Regions from separate parts of the Homo sapiens genome. Here region 2 is linked to region 1. Evidence: fine-mapped expression QTL. A gene starts in region 1. The other region holds a variant in brackets. All regions are shown on one strand. Distances are from middle to middle. Region 1 holds the start of SDCBP2-AS1 (SDCBP2 antisense RNA 1). Region 2 overlaps FKBP1A-SDCBP2 (FKBP1A-SDCBP2 readthrough (NMD candidate)).

Region 1 (5,380 bases):
CTAAGAACTGGTTTCTTCATCTGGAGACTGAAAATAGCCCACAAAGTCAGGAGAATGGAAGGACATACTGGACACAGGAGCCAGTGCATGCCCTCCTCAGCAGGGTCTCAGAAAATGGGGCAGAAAACGAGCCTGGTATGGGCTGGGCGAGCACTGGACAGGCAGCTTCACGTACAGTGGCCCAAGCTCATGACAATTCCACCACCATCACTTCCCACCTGGGCTCCTGCTCCCACTCCTGCCCTGTAGCCCATCCTCCAAACATCAGCCAGAGGAGGCCTGTCAAAATAACCCTTGGACCTTGGCACTCTGCTGCTACAAATCCCCCAGTGGCTCCCATCTCACTACAGTAAATGCCAAAGTCCTCACCATGACCTCCAGGCCCTCCAGGATCTGGCCCCTCTCACTTCTCCAGCTTCCTCCCCACTACTCCTCCTTACTCCCTCTCTGCACAACTGGCTTCTCACTGGCAGATGTCCTCTAAACACAACACCAACTCCCACCTGAGAGGCTCTGCAATGGCCGTGCCCACCCCATTAGGCCTTTCCTCAAATGTCACCCCACCCAGCCAGCAAGGCTTCTGAACCTCCTGACATGACCCTCCGTCCTGCTCTTTCTCTCCAGTGCCTCCCACCATCTAACACAGCACACAGAGTCACAAAGCCTATTTATCCAGCTCTTCCCCCAAAGAAAGTACATTTGGGGACCAAGTCTTCTTTCCTTCACTGCTGATACCTAGAACAGTACTCAGACTTAGCAGGTGCTGAGTAAGTAAGCGCTGAAACAATGAATAAACAGCTAACTTTTACTGAATGCCTATTATGTGCTAGGTGCTGTGCTAAATGCTTTCCATATACACCTTAACTCTTTTTAAAAATCTTTCAGTCTCCAGACAACTGTGATGCAACTATTGTTATCCAGATTACAAAGGAAGAAATGACATTCAAAGGGGATTTGCCTATGCTGTGCTCTCACAAGTCAGAAGCAGTCAGTCTGAACCCTGCCCTGCCTGGGCCTGGGTTCAGGCGTGTCTGCTTGAGGAAGTCACAGCTTTTCCCCAGCAGGCAGTGCAGCACTGAGAGGAGGAGTGGGGGTACATGCTGGTGGCCTAGCAACAGCTTCTTCTATTCCGACTCACCACATCCCTGGGCTAATTTGGCCTTCCAGGAGCTATTCCTCTGACACTCTAACCCACGCTTCCCTCCCGCGCACTGTCTTGTAAAGGACGGATGAGCTGTCCACAGGAACGAGTGGGAGTTCCATCACTTCAGCTCTTTGGAACAAAGTGTTCCAAAGAGTGTTCTCACTCTAAGTTCAAAGATGGGGGCTGAAGTCCCCTTGTCAGCCCTGCTGATCTCCGAAGCCCAGCTATTGGTTTGTTGTGGGTGTTGTTATTGCTTATATCAAAAAGTACAGAAGCTCAGGGATGGAAATCTGGAAAGGGCTGTGGGAGAGGAAAATTCCTCTGAGAGAGAGGGGTTAGGTGGGTTCTTTTCCTTTCGGAGGAACCAATTACTTGTGGGAAGCCATCAGCACAGAACTGAGCAAACTTCCACTGTCAGATTATAGGAGCCAGGCAGCCTTTCAACCTAACTCGTTAGGGCCATGGTTTCTCTCCTTTTCCAGGCCCAGGTTATTCTTCGAAAGACTTTCTACTTATTGACTGCAAACACAGACAGGCATGGGAAGAAAGACTGTATATTTAGGATATCAGGCTTTCTCTTCTCTCTGTGCCTGCTTTTCCACTCCTTTCAGAAATAGTAATGGGATGCCTGTTGTGTGCCAGGCACTGTGCTCAGCACTGGGGGTTAACAAATGAGTGACATTTCCTGACCAGTGAGGGAGATGAGCAAACAAACACAGCACAGTGGAAATCCAACCTAGGAAATGCAGAAGGCCTTGCTCATAGTAGGTGATTAACAAACACTTGTGGAATATATGATGAAGAGGCAAATACAAGAAATGCTGTCGTCTAGAGAAGGGAGGCTTGCCAATCTCCATGCGTACAGGTGGGGGAAAGCTTTAAATTGGAGGAAAAAGAGTTCACAACAAGGAAAAGAGAGAAGGCATGAATGACTCTTAAGACAGAGGGAATAGCACCTGCAAAAGCATGGAGGCATGAACTAGCAGGCTGACTTTTAGGACTCAACCTAAAGTAGTCTGGAATAAATGAACTTCATGATAAGTGTGGAGAAGAATGAGATGGTGAGAATGGAAACATTACCAGAAGTCAGGTCACAGAGATTTGAGGGCAAGAAGTAGGTATGGCTTCAGAAGGGAAAGGGAGGAGCTGAGGATAACTCCCAGATTTCTGACATAGCCCATGGGTGGATTCAGTGAGACCGCTGGGGAGGCGCGGCACAGCTGGGGAAAATCACGAGTCCAGTTTGGATAATCTGCGAGGTAAACGGGATCCAGAAGGCAACTGGACTCTCAGGCCTGGGCCTCCCTGTCCCTGGAATAGCACACTCTCTTCCCACTTGAACATCCATCCTACACGGCCCAGTCAGGGTCTTCTTCCTTCCTCCAGGAGACCTTCCTGATTGCCCTAGCCTTCCTCCTATACGCCACATCCAACTGCCTGAGTCCCTCATAACAGGCTTTCGGTCTGATTTTGCTGTGGGAATTGATTTGCCCGGCCAAGCCAAGAACCCTTCCCTAGGCAGCAGAAGCCCAGTCACTCAGTCACTGGTGGGTGGGACGCGGGGTGAATCTGCGTAGGGTGGGGCGGGGCATTTTTAGCTCAACACTGGGTCAGAAGTCACGGCCAGACAAGAAACGGGTGAGAAACGGGGGAGGAAGGGTGACGTCACAATTGGTAGGAAATACCTTGGGACTTGACGCTTTCGAAACCAAAGGGAGAGCAAAAGCAGCCGGGAGCGCGCGGGCCGACCTGGTTCTCCTCCCTTCCCACGGCTGCCTTAGTACAGAATCTTATAAGTCCTCCTCCTTCAGAGGCTACAAATGGTGTTCCGAGGCCAGGGGAGTTTAAAGCTCGATTTCACCCGCGCAGCCTCCAATCCGGTAAAGAGGGGCCGCGGAGCCCGACCAAGTCTTCCTATGCCTTACTCTGCTGCTTTACCTGATCTATTTTTGTGGATGCCGGCGCCAGCTACGGGCGCCCGGAGAAAGCACGAGGCCGGGTGGACTCTGGTAACGCAAGCGGCAAGGAGGCCGCCATGTTCCACTCTGCAGCCGCTAGGGATCGTGGGAGTCACCCCTAACCGCGCCCGGGCCTGGGTGGGCGAAACGCATGCGCTCTAGAAGTTGCTGAGTCGCTTGGCGGTGTTTCTGCGCAGGCGCCGTAGCCCATAGCAACCGCCGTAACCTGTAGCAACCGGAAGATGTCGCTTCCGGCTGGTTTGGGGCTAAGAAAGGGGTTATAGTCATTTCGAGATCATAGAACGATGTGACAGATAGGAAACTGAGGCTGGGTTGGAGGCAGGCCCTAGGGACCGTTGCGTTGGACCTCGCTCCTGTGGCGCGGTGGATGGAGTTTGTGGCTTGTGGCTCCTATTTCCCAAAGCAGGAAATTGAGACAGAGGGAAGGCACAGGTTCGTCCTGAGGCTGCAGCCCAGGTGATGGTTCCCCGGGTAAAAAATCAATATGATGCCCTTTGTTTATAAGGAGAAGGCAGGGACATGAAAGTAATTTCTAATAAAAGAATATGCATTTCACTTTGTAAAAGCTGAGGCTGGCTTACACCCGATCACGCTTGTACCCAACTTAGGAATCAGCTTAGGTTTACTAGAAGACAATATTCAGCTGAATTTTGCCAACAGTTTATATCTGACATCTTGAGTCAAAGGCTAAATATATTTATATAAAAGCGCGGAGTCACTGTGACAGCTACACATGTACACAGACGTGAGCATGCTGTTCGGGTGACTCACCCGTGGGGAGCAGGGTGGGCAGCGATTTTCCAGAATGGTGAGCAAAGTGTAACTCCCCACAACCAACCTGATATATGCATTTCCAGACAGTCTAGTGTGTACTAAAACTAGGGAAAAATTCATTGTGATTGTATGTACAACCAATTATAACGGATTTTTGGCTTACTTGAAAGTTTGGCAGGATATCTGAAAGTTGTGCGGGACAGGACCATTTGTTATGGTGACTGTAATGGACTGTCCCATCCATTACAGGAGTTTCATATCCCTGCCCCCCCCACCCCCGACAGGGATATGACTGTCCCCTCAGTCTCGTGACACCCAAAAATGCCCACATAAATTTCCAATCTGTTCCTTGGAAAACCACTGATTTATTCAGTCAAATAATTTTTGCTAGCATATGTGTGCTGGGCAGTGCCGTGGCGGGGAAGGATCGTGTGTGAACGGGACAGAGCTCCTGCCCTTATGAGTGAGGTCCAGTGTAAGAAAATACCCAGATATTAATCACATAATTTGATAAATAGCTTGGCAACAGGGGCAGTACAGGTCAGGGGTGGAATACATGGGAAGACCCAGCCAGGCAGCCTGGGTATCATGCAGTCTGGAAAAGCCAAGCAGAGAAGTAGCATCTGAACTGAGCCTCGAAGGAGCATCACACCAAGGAGGATGATGTGCACAGCAGAGGGACCAGCACGTCTGGCACACAGTGGACACTCAAATGTTTTGAATGATTGAACGAAACACAGCATGTTCGCTGGCAGGGAACCATTCCCCATTATATTGTGAGCTGCTACAAGGCAGGGGATACAGTATGCCTTTCCTATCCCCAGGTTTCACATCCATGGATCCAACCAACTGTAGACAGAAAATATTTAAAAATAAAAATTAAAAAAAACAACAAAAATTCAAATAAAAATAAAATATAACTTTGTTTAGCATTTACATTGCATTAGGTATTGTAAGTAATCTAGAGATGATTTAAAGTATACAGAAGAATGTGCATAAGTTATATGCAAATATTATGCCACTTTATGTAAGGGACATAAGCAGCTGTGGATGTTGGTATCCGAGGGATGGGGAGTGAGGGGCATTGTCCTGGAACCTACCCCAAGGAACGACTGTACCTGTTTTCTCACTTCCCCGCATCCCAGCACTAAGATGGGATCCAGAGAAGGTGGCAGTGGTGAAAGGATCTCAGACACAGAAAAAGGGTTATGTGATCTGGCCCGGGAGTGATTTCCAGGAAATGGATCTCTGACTCCCTGCTCTCCCAGGGGACAGCTGACAAAAATATAAGTGCTCTACTGGTTAAATGTTAGGAAAATCAGGGCAGGAGTGGCTGCTTATTTTCGCATCTGCTGTTCATGCGTGGTCCTGGTGGCAGGTCATGTTTTGGCAGATGATAGCTGCTCAGGACTGTCCCAAGATTAAAAATCTCATAGTGTGTGTACACAGTGGGGAAGGCTATAAGCAAAGGGGTCTCTTCCCC
Region 2 (5,380 bases), 36 kb before region 1:
GCAACTTAGAACTTTTTAAAAGAGGCAAAGGCAGAGGAGAATGAAGGAGGAAGTAACTTGTGGAATGCTGAGAAACGTAAAAACACCTTCAGATAAGGAAGAGGAACAGGCTATGACCTAATGCTTGCTTGGACCAGTATAAGCATTGCCAGGGCAAATAGGCTAAATTGTGGGAGCTAAGAACATAAAGTACATTGATTTCTTTATTACGGCTAGCAGATATTTAAGAATGTTAGCACAGGTCTTTGAATAAGTTTTGCTCCTAAGAGAAGTTACTATTTATTCTTAATTAGACAGGGAGGAAAGTCTTTGAAGAGGAACCTCACTTTACTTTTTACACCCCTAAGAACCATGATGATAGACTGCAAAAAAGCATCCCATCAACCATCACTTTTTCCAGGAAATGGCTGGCCACAGAAAACTCTCCGCCCCTTTCCTCTTTTGAAATGGTCCCAGACTGCTCACCTGCCTCCTTGAAGCTAATCAAGTCAAATGTACTTGAAGACCACTTTGTCTCTTGGCTTGCTTCCACAAATCCTACCCTTATATGACATTTGCCAAGTCAACACTGTCAGTATTTCTCCTTTTTACTCTATAACGTCTTAACACCTCTGAACACTTACCAAAACAAAGGTTTCAGCAGAAGGGTTCCCCTGCTGCACGTTTATGAATAAATAGCCTTTGTCGATTTTATCTTGGACTTAGTTTTGTCTCTGACACATGTGGAATGGATGTCTGTTAGAATTCTGCCCTTGCCACACCTCTTGCTTCCTGGATAAATGTGGGTTCACTTGGGTTGATGACCTTGGGCTACACTGGCTTCTTCAGAACCCCTGAGAAGCGTGTAGGGATTCTCATTCAGACCTCTAGAATTGAGTGAATCAGTGAAGGGCAGCTGACACCAAAAATGCATTAAAATGTCAAGGCCGGCAGCCCTCTAGCTTCTGGCTGGAGTGTGTGATGATTTCGTCTGAATTCCCTGAGTTCAAGGCATGCAGTGGGCACATCGACTATGGGCCCATCAGAGGCTGAGTTTGCAGCAGCAGCTGTCCTGTACAGCATGCAGCAAAACGGCTGTCAGCTCTTATTAGGAAGGTAGAAACATGCCAGTGGGTATGTATGCAGGACTAGTGTATCCTTGGATGTGCCTGTTACTGACCACTGTGGTTCTGTTTAACATTAATTTGTATATTTCTCAAAGCATCACATGCCCAAGATTTAGGCAAGTAAATTCAGTTAACCACAGAGTATACTTTTATGCCTTTCCTGTGATAACACCATTCTAGATGCTAAGAGTGAATGTAGGATAGGACAGAAAAGTGCTGCTGGCAAGGACCTTACATTCATGCCAGTGAAGGAGACCCAAAACAGATGGGCAAATAATGCCAGCCGTCTGGAAGCAATGGAGTGAAGTGGCCAAGTGAAGTCCTGGAGGAAAATTGTTCTAGGCTAAGTCCCTGAAGGGTGGTGAGTTTGGGGTGCTGGGGAAACAGCAGTATGACCTTTAGAGACAGAGCAAAGGTGTGAGGGACAGAGTTAGGCAGGGGCCAGGTGAGGCAGGCTATTACAATGTAAGTCTAGTGAGCAGTGGATTCCAGCAGGAGAATTATGTCTATTTGTTTTGGGGAGAGTGTTTTGAGACAAGGTCTGATCTGTCACCCAGGTTGGAGTGCAGTGGTGTAATCACAGCTCACGGCAACCTCAACCTCCCAGGCTCAAGCGATCCTCCCACCTTAGCCTCCCGAGTAGCACATGCCACTGTGTCGAGCCGTTTGTTTTTTTAAAATCCTCTGGAAACTGGGAAATTGACTGAAAGGTAGTATTCCTCCAAGCCCTTGAATCTAGGCTGGCCTTGTGACTACTTTGATCATTACAAGGCAGTGGGAAAGGATGTTCTGGGACTTCAAGCCCAGGCCTCAATAGGACTGCCAGCTTCTACTTCCTTCTCAGAACACTAGCTCTGAGCCCAAGCTACATGGAGAGGCCATCGTCCTAGCTGAGAACCTAGCCAGCTGCCACCATGTGAATGAACCACGGTGAACACTCAGCCCATTCAAGCCCACAAATGCCCACAGCTCCAGCCACATCACATGAATAGAGGAACCACCCCACTCAGCCCAGGAAAACCAGAGTTGTGAGACTGAATCACTTGGTTTTGAAGTTTATTTCACAGCAATAGATAAGTGAAACAAGGGCAAGAGTGGTGGATGGATGCAGGACACAAGCCAGCTTTGGGGTTCATTTAGGCCAGAAAGGATGGAGGCCTGGAGCAGACTGGCGGAAGTGAAGATAGTGAATCGTCAGATTCAGGACGCACTTGATGGGTGCAGCTTTCAAGCTGGATGAGAAGGGAAAGAAGTAGAATAGAAAAGCAGCAAGTCTCTGCCTGGCTTTCTCCAGACGACTCCTTAGAGCTTTAGACCCCCCGCTCTCTTTGATAACTACCACCATCCTGCACGAACCAGTTGCTTATACTGGCTTATATTGTGATCGTGTTTTGTTTTTTGTTTTTTGTTTTTTTTTTTGCTCTTTAAGTAAAAAATAAGGTTAAATCTTTGAGAAGTCCTTCTTAAGCAACAAAACCTCAGAGACACAAAGGAAATTATTAATAGATGTAACCACTTAAAAATAAAAAATGAAACTTCTCTATCATAAAAACATGCCATAAACAAAGCTAAAAGATGATGAGCTATAATGGAGAGAAAATATTTGCAAAATATAACAAAAAATCTCATACACTAACTATATAAGCAATTCTAAAGAAAAAGGTAGCCAAATAGAGACTAGCATTAAGCTGCTCTAGGAATTTCACATTATATTACCATATCTTGACGTATGAGTTTTA[G/C]ACGTGTCATGTGGCCCCTCGGCCTCCAGTAGATATGCCCAGGCTTCTCACAGCATGGTGGTCTCAAGGTTCCAAGAAGGTGAGGAGAAACTTCAAGGCCTCTTAAAGCTTCAGCTGCAGAACTCACATAATGTCACTTCTTCCATGTATTGGTCAAAACAAGTCACCAGGCCAGCCCAGGCCCAAGGGTAAAGAAATAGACTCCCTCTCTCACTAGGAGAAACAGCAAATTTCTCATTGCAAAGTGGTGCGGATACAGGGAGGTGTGGTTCACTGGGACCATTATTATAGCACTCCCACGCAATGGCTAAAAATGCCTTTCTTCTACCCTCATGATTGATAGCTTAGCTGGGAATATTATTTTGTATTGATAATTATTTTCTCTGAGGATGAAAGCATTGCTGCACTCTCTTGGAGCTTCCAGTGTTGTTGAGAAGGGTAATGTCATTTTGATTCCTGTTCCTTTATGTGTGATCTCATATTCCTTTCTGAAATCTTTCAGGATCTGATTTATCTATGGTATGATGAAATGTCGTAACACGGCCTTGTGTGAGTCTTCTTTTTTTCTTTTCTCCCCTCCTTTTCCTCCTGTTTTTTGTTTACTATGTTAAGCATTTGGAAGGTCATTTTAATCTGGATACACATGTCCTTCAGTTTGGAAGGTTTCTGATATTTCTTTGATAGGTATATTTTCCACAAACATATTTTCTCCCAAAACATATCAGAAGAGTGGTATTATTTTACATTTTTAAACATTTACGCTTGGCTTAATAGAATGAGTTCTCACATCTACTTCTGCATTCAATCTTGCAATATGTTGTTTTGGTTGAAATCTATGAAGAAATTACAACTAAGCACATTTTTAAGGACGCTTGTGTCTGAACAGATAGTAATACAGAAACCAACATAACGAGAAATACCTGGCATCTCTTTATCTGAGGACTTTGCTAAATGGGAAATATTTAGTCATCTTCTTGAAAAGAATTTATCCAAACTTGCATTGGTAGAAAACAAAACTGGCTTTGTTTCCCTGTATAAAAACCACTTAGCACTTCATTTGTATATTCAAATGTAGTTTGTGAAGAGAGCAATCAGAGAAATCATGTATCCAATTTGTAAATACAATTAACCAAGAGAATATACAGGTCAGATCGCCCTTCAACTGGTCTCACAATTGCCATCACAAACTGAGTCAGCTGGCCAAAGTGATGGGGAGACATTCTGAGAAATGTGTCATTAGGAGATTTCACCATTGTGTGAACATCATAGAGTATACTTACACAAATCTGTATAGTATAGCCTACCTACCACACACCTAGGCTATACGGTACAACCTGTAGCTCCTAGGCTACAAAACTATACAGCAGGTTTGTACAGTGACTGTTGAATACTACAGGCAATTGGAATACAGTGGTAAGGATTTGTGTATCTGAACAGATCTAAACATAGAAAAGGTCATGTGTCACTACATGACGTTATGCCAGTTGGCAATAGGAATTTTTGAGCTTCATTATGGTTTTATGGGACCACTGCTGTGTATGCAGCCCACCACTGATGAGAACATCATACGCAGTGCGTGACTGTACTTCGACCACCAGGGGTACAAGTGCATGGACTGGACAGAAGGAAAACCTCAGAGAACCTGAGGATGTGGATAAGACTGTTTAGTGAGGTTCTCAACTCATCACAAGCTACCAGGTATTCGGCATGGAGGGGTGGTGACAGTTATGCAGGACATTGACATATGATGATACAGTGGTCATTCTTACATAAAATGAAGAAGACTGTCCAGTAAATTCTATGAGTTTGCAGTAGATGGATCATCAAAGGATATGGGTAATCTTGTAGTAACAGGACTATGTTACTAGGAATTTCACTAGTCCTGTTACTAATTCATAGGCCATGGAGCAATATAAGACCAAGGTTACAAACCCCTAAAATTGTCTGGAAAGAGAATGACTTTTTTATGTACTTTGGTCTGAGCATGTGATTCATAAGTATATGACAGCAGATCAATTCAGATACATCCAGAAGAAGCCATCCTTTATTCTGAAATGTCCTAACCATACCTGAAATAAATACTAAGTGATGCACCAGAATTTTCCTCCCTGGGATCAATGAGCAGTAGCATTGAGAGCAGAAACGGCAGCCGTGGTAACAGGAGCTGCTGTGGTCAGTAGGCTCTCAGGGTCTGTCAGGCAAGAGCATAGGATAGTGACAATTCAAATGAAAGCAAAAACAAACATAAAAAGGAATGAACTACTGAAATGCCAACAATATGGATGAATCTCACAGATATTATAATAAGTAAAAGGAACCAGACTTTTTTTTTTTTTTGAGACGGAAGCTCACTCTGTCACCAGGCTGGAGCGCTGTGGCGCGATCTCGGCTCATTGCAACCTCCGACTCCCTGGTTCAAGCGATTCTCCTGCCTCAGCCTCCTGAGTAGCTGGGATTACAGGCATGTGCCACCATGCCCAGCTAATTTTTGTATTTTTAGTAGAGATGGAGTTTCACCATGTTGGCCAGGATGGT

What was found. PIP is the estimated chance that this variant, and not a neighbour inherited with it, causes the effect.
Region 2: its variant is fine-mapped to the expression of SDCBP2-AS1 in whole blood (TOPMed, PIP above 0.99).

What each region holds. Positions count from the first base shown.
Region 1 is chr20:1,323,232-1,328,611 of GRCh38, reverse strand. It overlaps SDCBP2-AS1 (SDCBP2 antisense RNA 1), which reads right to left and starts at 3,269. Exons shown (of 3, transcript NR_040049.1): 1 at 3,083-3,269. All of the region lies in intron 1 of SDCBP2 (syndecan binding protein 2), which reads left to right. The region is part of intron 2 of FKBP1A-SDCBP2 (FKBP1A-SDCBP2 readthrough (NMD candidate)); the gene reads left to right. It overlaps LOC124904856 (a long non-coding RNA gene), which reads right to left. Exons shown (of 2, transcript XR_007067487.1): 2 at 4,243-4,746. RefSeq lists enhancers at 2,693-2,987, 2,978-3,207.
Region 2 is chr20:1,359,355-1,364,734 of GRCh38, reverse strand. All of the region lies in intron 2 of FKBP1A-SDCBP2 (FKBP1A-SDCBP2 readthrough (NMD candidate)), which reads left to right. The region is part of intron 1 of SDCBP2-AS1 (SDCBP2 antisense RNA 1); the gene reads right to left. Among named protein-coding and RNA genes, the nearest start is that of MIR6869, 31 kb to the left of the region's middle. The variant G/C (reference allele first, on the strand shown) is at 2,846.